Linked DNA regions of Homo sapiens: region 2 is linked to region 1. Evidence: fine-mapped expression QTL. A gene starts in region 1. The other region holds a variant in brackets. All regions are shown on one strand. Distances are between the middles of the regions. Region 1 holds the start of VIPAS39 (VPS33B interacting protein, apical-basolateral polarity regulator, spe-39 homolog). Region 2 overlaps SAMD15 (sterile alpha motif domain containing 15).

The links. PIP is the estimated chance that this variant, and not a neighbour inherited with it, causes the effect. A credible set is the group of variants that fine-mapping cannot tell apart.
Region 2: its variant is the best candidate, but not a certain one, in a credible set for the expression of VIPAS39 in whole blood (TOPMed, PIP 0.82).

Annotation. Positions count from the first base shown.
Region 1 is chr14:77,455,810-77,458,723 of GRCh38, forward strand. VIPAS39 (VPS33B interacting protein, apical-basolateral polarity regulator, spe-39 homolog) reads right to left here and starts at 1,792. Exons shown (of 20, transcript NM_001193315.2): 1 at 1,686-1,792. AHSA1 (activator of HSP90 ATPase activity 1) reads left to right here and starts at 2,284. Exons shown (of 9, transcript NM_012111.3): 1 at 2,284-2,460. The coding sequence starts at 2,381. RefSeq lists enhancers at 1,590-2,112, 1,731-2,190, 2,113-2,635, 2,361-2,540.
Region 2 is chr14:77,380,521-77,383,434 of GRCh38, forward strand. The region is part of intron 2 of SAMD15 (sterile alpha motif domain containing 15); the gene reads left to right. Among named protein-coding and RNA genes, the nearest start is that of SAMD15, 4.6 kb to the left of the region's middle. RefSeq lists a silencer at 1-155. The variant C/T (reference allele first, on the strand shown) is at 1,628.

The DNA.
Region 1 (2,914 bases):
TATCTGGTCCCTTCTCACGGCAGACATCACTAATTGATTTCTACTGGTACAGGGTTGTTTAAAAATCCTTTTCTGTATTTAATTTTAGGGAGATAAACCAAAAATGCTGGCAGACACCATGAAATCATCCCACACAGACATTGTAGTCAGGCAACCTTGAGTTCAAATCCTGGTTTCTCTTAATTCTGAGCAAAGTGGATAAATGACTTTACTTCTAAGCCTTGGAGAAAATTATATCCTATCTCACAGGGTTGCAGGGAACATCTATAAAAGTGTCTAGCAGAAAGTAAATACTAAATGTTATTTCCTTTTAATATGGAATATCATACTGACATTTTTCTGTCTTGGTTTTCCCGTCTGTTAAATGGGCATAACAGATGACCTACCTTAGAAATGGTTCTGAGGAGTAAACCAGTTAATACATGTAAAGTGCTTAGTGCCTGACCCAAAATTAACACTCAATAGTAACTTTTATTATTAATACATCATCCTGGTACCTTGGGAAAAGCTAAAAAAGAAAATATTTTTTAGCAATCCTAAAGATTAAAAAAAATACAAAAATTCTGAGTAGCCACAAATGCTGAAGATGTGTATAGAACATATAAATGTCTCTGGCACACATGTCAGTTCATAAATCACTCTGTCATTCGTTTGATCCTCAGAACAATCTTGTAAGGTAGGCCTGGGAGATTCCATTTCCATGTTACTCATGGGGAAAGTGAGGCACAAAAGAGTTCAGTATCAAAGCCACTTTGTTAAATGCTCCTATTTCAAATTACAATCCAGGCTTTCTGGCTCCTAGACCATTTCTAGTGTCTTGCATGGTCCTTCTACCTATTTTTCACTTTCCAGAAAACTAGAGATCATTCCTTCACTATAGTAATTATCTACAGATAGACATAGAATGTGTCTAACAAACACAATAATCTACCAGAGGATTTCTGGAATCTTTTTAACCATGCAATGGCAGTAGACAACTGCCATCAATTTGTATTTATAACGCCAAATGAGAAGCTAGGTTTACTTGGCAAGTATAGATAATGATCTAGTGGCTCTAGAGTTATAAAGTAATCAGGTACGATTGTCACTCTTAAGAGTGACAGGTGCTTCAACATGATTTAAAATACTTCAGAGGTTTGTCTTTATCGTCTCTTGTTTACTGACAGCCCACAAGGCAGGGTGAGAGACCTCAGGGGAGAACAGGAACTTTACAAAGGAAAACAGAAGAATCAGCAAGAAAACCACAACATGCTCCCTGCCTCAGAAAACTCCAAAAACCACCTACTGAGAAGTCAGACTTGGTTTCAATTATCTTCCGAGCCAGGAAGATACAGGTGAGGCTTGTGAACTGAGACCAGGGAACAAGAGTTAAGCTAGGATGACTCTACGGGTGAACGTCCAGGAAGCCATGGATCTACCGCAGTCGTCAGAGCCCAGCGGATCCCTGGCAGAGTTAAATGCTCGTTCTGAACCAAATGTCCGCTTCCGAACCAATCGCTGGTGCTCACTCGCAGCCCCAGTCCCAAGCGTACTCCAGCGCCCAAGGGTCGCCCTGACTGAAAGAAGAGAATCAGGCCTGTAGTCATAGGGTGTAGGGATGCCTCCTAGAAGAGGGGAAAAGATCAAGATGCGGAGAGGCTGGATCCAGCCAGATACGCGACCCAAGGGGCTTGGGACACCCTCACCTCTTCCGCACAGAGCCCTCCCTCTCAGGACAGCGCCAGCCTCCGCCGCCGCTGGACCAGCCCTTCTATTCAGGCTGTGCAGCTTAGAGAAGGGGGCGGAAGGGAATAATCGTAGGGCGGAGAGAAAACACGAATAACGAGACCGCAGGGCATGCTGGAAGTCGTAGTTTCTTCTGCCTCTGCTGTCAGGCGCTGTCCCGACGAACCACAAGGCTTCTTGACTACAGCCCCCAGAAACCCCAAGCACCGTGCTAGGTCATTTCCTCTCCTTTCCGCGAGACCTTCCGCGGTTATCCAGCGAGTCACGTAGCAAGACTACAATTCCCATGAGGCTCAGCAAGGGCGATTTAGGGTCCAGGGAAGCAATGAGACGTGTTCTTTGTTTTCCTATGGGTGAGGAATGGTTGTATGAGCAGTTGGGTTTCGGGACGCTTTTTGGGGAGAACCCGATGGAGTCTGAAGGATCTCTAAATCAGGCGGAACCCACGGTGCGGCGAGTTGGGACGGAAGTAACCGGTGGGAGTGGGGAGGAGCCGGAAGTTAAGGAGGGGAGGGGGTGGAGGGAAAAGCAAGCCAGGAGGTGCTTGCGGCCGCTTCTAGTAGTTTCCAGGCGCTGCCGGGCGGCTGGCACTAAGCGGTCCTGAGGCTGTGGCTACGGCTGCTCCGGAGCTGGTGGCGCCGCGATAGGAGAGCCGATGGCCAAGTGGGGTGAGGGAGACCCACGCTGGATCGTGGAGGAGCGGGCGGACGCCACCAACGTCAACAACTGGCACTGGTGAGGGCCAGAAAAGCAGGCCGGCCTTGGGAGACCTGCGGCCGGGCCAGGGTTTCAGGGTTCCTAGAACCTCGGCCCGGACAGAGCTGGGGCTGAGGTAGCCCTGTCCGGAGATGGGGGTGGGTCCTTCCTGTGGCAGGGGTCCGTAGCCCCAGGCCTCTCCACTCCGCGGTCACCTTCTCAGTGTTTGAGGGGAGGGAGATGGACGTGGAGGGCTGCGCCCCAGAGGAGGGTTGTCAGAGAGACTAGGAGATAACGCCCTGGCTGCTGCATCCAGCCCGAGCAGGGAGGTGCTTATTACACGTGGCCAGAGGAGTCACTGAGACTGGAACCTCCTTTGATTGTGTTGGGAGATAGCTGTGAAAGGCCTAAGGCCAGGGGTCTGTAATTCCTATTTTGCGGCCTGCGGTAAAATTAAAAGTCATTCATAGGGGACCGCTGCAGCGGTCCCGCG
Region 2 (2,914 bases), 75 kb before region 1:
CAGTGCCACCATCTGTCTCAAACCAACCTTTTTTTCCTCCAGCCTGGCCTCCCACTTCTGTCAATGGTGTCATCATAATTCCAGTTCCTCAGGCTCACGGTGGTTGCCTCCTCTTTCTCCTTTGATCCCCATAAATATTCCAAGAACTGTCCATTGCTCCTGTGGCACTTACACCGTCTGGCTTTCTTCATTCCCACTTTTCAGACCTTATGGCCTCATGCCTAGAACACCACAGTGGCCTCCCGCTTTTAGCCTGTCTCAATGGACCCTTTGGATTCAAGGGCCCTGCTTTTATGCTCTCACTTTCCACCTACTTATGTACTATTCAAAAACCTTCTTTGGATCCCTTCTGCTTACCAAGATAGTCTCCACTCCCTAGTTTAGAATTTAGGGCCCTCCACAAGTTCTCTCCCCTACCACTCCTCCACATGAATTTTGTGCTCCAGCCTACCACCAGGTCTAACACCTTCGCAAACCTGCCTGGTGCGTTCTTCTCTCTATGTCTTCGCTCAGTTCCCCCATCCTCTGTATTACTAATATGAATCTTAATCATCCTTCAAGACCAGTTCCTCATTTGCATCTCCCCAAGAAGTCTTTTGTAACATTCCCAGCCCACAGTAGCCCCCATCCCAAGTTCTCATGACATTTTGTGTCTCTGACACCCATTTGGCACTTATATAACACCATATGTATTTTGCCTGCTTTGCTGCCTAACTTTGAAACAAGCTACATTAACCACTCTGAGCATCAATTTTCTAAAATCTCCAGCACCAACAGTTCATGATTATTCTCCTTTGCATAACAGTACCCTCCATTTGTAGTGCTTTGCAATTTACAAAGCATCACAAACAATCTCACGTGTAACCTCTCCTTTAGTACCCCACCCCAATAACCCTCCAAGAATGGACAGTTCTTGGCATAACCATGGTTTTGCTCAGCACACCCATGCCCAGAAATGTACCACCTCAGTGGTTTCCAAACTTGGGTCGTCTTCAGAATCAAATGAGATTTTTTGAAAAAGATACATTCCTAGGCTTCATCCTCCAGAGATTTTGATTCATTAGGGCTGGGTAGGCCCTGGAATCTCTTCCCTAGATGACTCTTCAACAGGCCTTATAACCCTAAAATTCCATAAGTCATATGGTTTAGAAATAAGAAAACTATGCTTGTTAATACCTGAGTCCTTTTACTAGCAAGAAGATATAACGAAACTTTTTAAATTATTAAACATACAGTCCTAACTGAGCGTTTACTTTCTTAAATTCTGCTAATAGCTATGCTTTGCTGAGAGCTTACTGTGTTTGGGGCCTCTTATATGTATTATTTCACTAATTCCCATTTTATAGAAAACTGGGGCCCAGAAAGGTGAAACAACTTAACAAGCTATTCAGATAATACGTTTTTTCTGTTTTTTGTCTTTGTTTTTGTTTTTTTTGAGACAGGGTCTCGCTCTGTCACCCAGGCTGGAGTGCAGTGGTGTAACCTTGGCTCACTTCAACCTCCATCTCCTGGTTTAAGCGATTCTCCTGCCTCAGCCCCCCAAGTAGCTGGGACTACAGGTGTGCGCAACCATGCCCAGCTAATTTTTTCTTCTTGTTGTTTTTTTGGGGTTTTTTTTTTTTGAGAC[C/T]GAGTCTCACTCCGTTGCCCAGGCTGGAGTGCAGTGGTGCGATCTCAGCTCATTGCAACCTCCACCTCCCGGGTTCAAGCGATTTTCCTGCCTCAGCCTCCCGAGTAGCTGGGACTACAGGCGCGTGGCACCACGCCCAGCTAATTTTTGTATTTTTAGTAGAGATGGGGTTTCACCGTGTTAGCCAGGATGGTCTTGATTTCTTGACCTCGTGCTCTGCCTGCCTCGGCCTCTCAAAATGCTGGGACTACAGGCGTGAGCCACCGCACCTAGCCTAATTTTTGTATTTTTAATAGAGACAGGGTTTCATGATATTGGCCAGGCTGGTCTCAAACTCCTGACCTTAAGTGATCTGCCGGCCTTGGCCTCCCAGAAGTGCTGGGATTATAGGCATGAGCCACCACGCCCGACTTATATTCAGATAACAAGTTTAAGAGCCAGGATTTAAGTCCATCTTGTGTGACTTCCCAATCCATGTTCTATTTAACTGTATTGCCTAAGTGAACATTTTTGTTACCATAAACTTCCATGTACTATAAACATTATGATGTGGAAATGATCCTTTATTTATTTTATTTATTTTTTTGAGACAGAGTCTTGCTCTGTCACCCAGGCTGGAGTGCAGTGGCTCGATTTCAGCTCACGGCAACCTCCGCCTCCCAGGTTCAAATAATCCTCCTGCCTCAGCCTCCCAAGTAGCTGGGATTACAGGCACGTGCCACCATGTCTGGCTAATTTTTGTATTTTTAGTGGAGCCGGGGTTTCACCATGTTGGCCATGCTGGTCTCGACCTCCTGACCTCAGATCCACCCGCCTCAGCCTCCCAAAGTGCTGGGATTATAGGCATGAACCATGCCCAGCCTGGATCATTTATTATATACTTGTATTTCCAACCATGCCCTCACTTAACTACCAAGTACTGCCAGATAAATATCTTGTTCTTTTTATGTTCAAAGATAATACAGCTGTTTTTATGAACTCTAATTTCTACTTAAGGTATAATGAATTTTCTAGATAAAAATAAGGAACAGGCTGCTCTGCCTACGGAGCAGCCATAGTCCTTGACTTTCTTAATAAACTTGCTTTCGCTTAAAAAAATAATAATAATAAGGAACAGAATTAGCAAAATAGTAACCTGTCAAATTCCTGGAACATTTAAGTACCAAGAATTTCAGCTTTTTATCATGAGAAGGCATTTTTAAGAGTCAGACAATTCATTCAGCTCCCTTGGTATTCTAATTCCAAAAGTACAATATCAACATGCAGTAATAAAAATTCTAATTATAG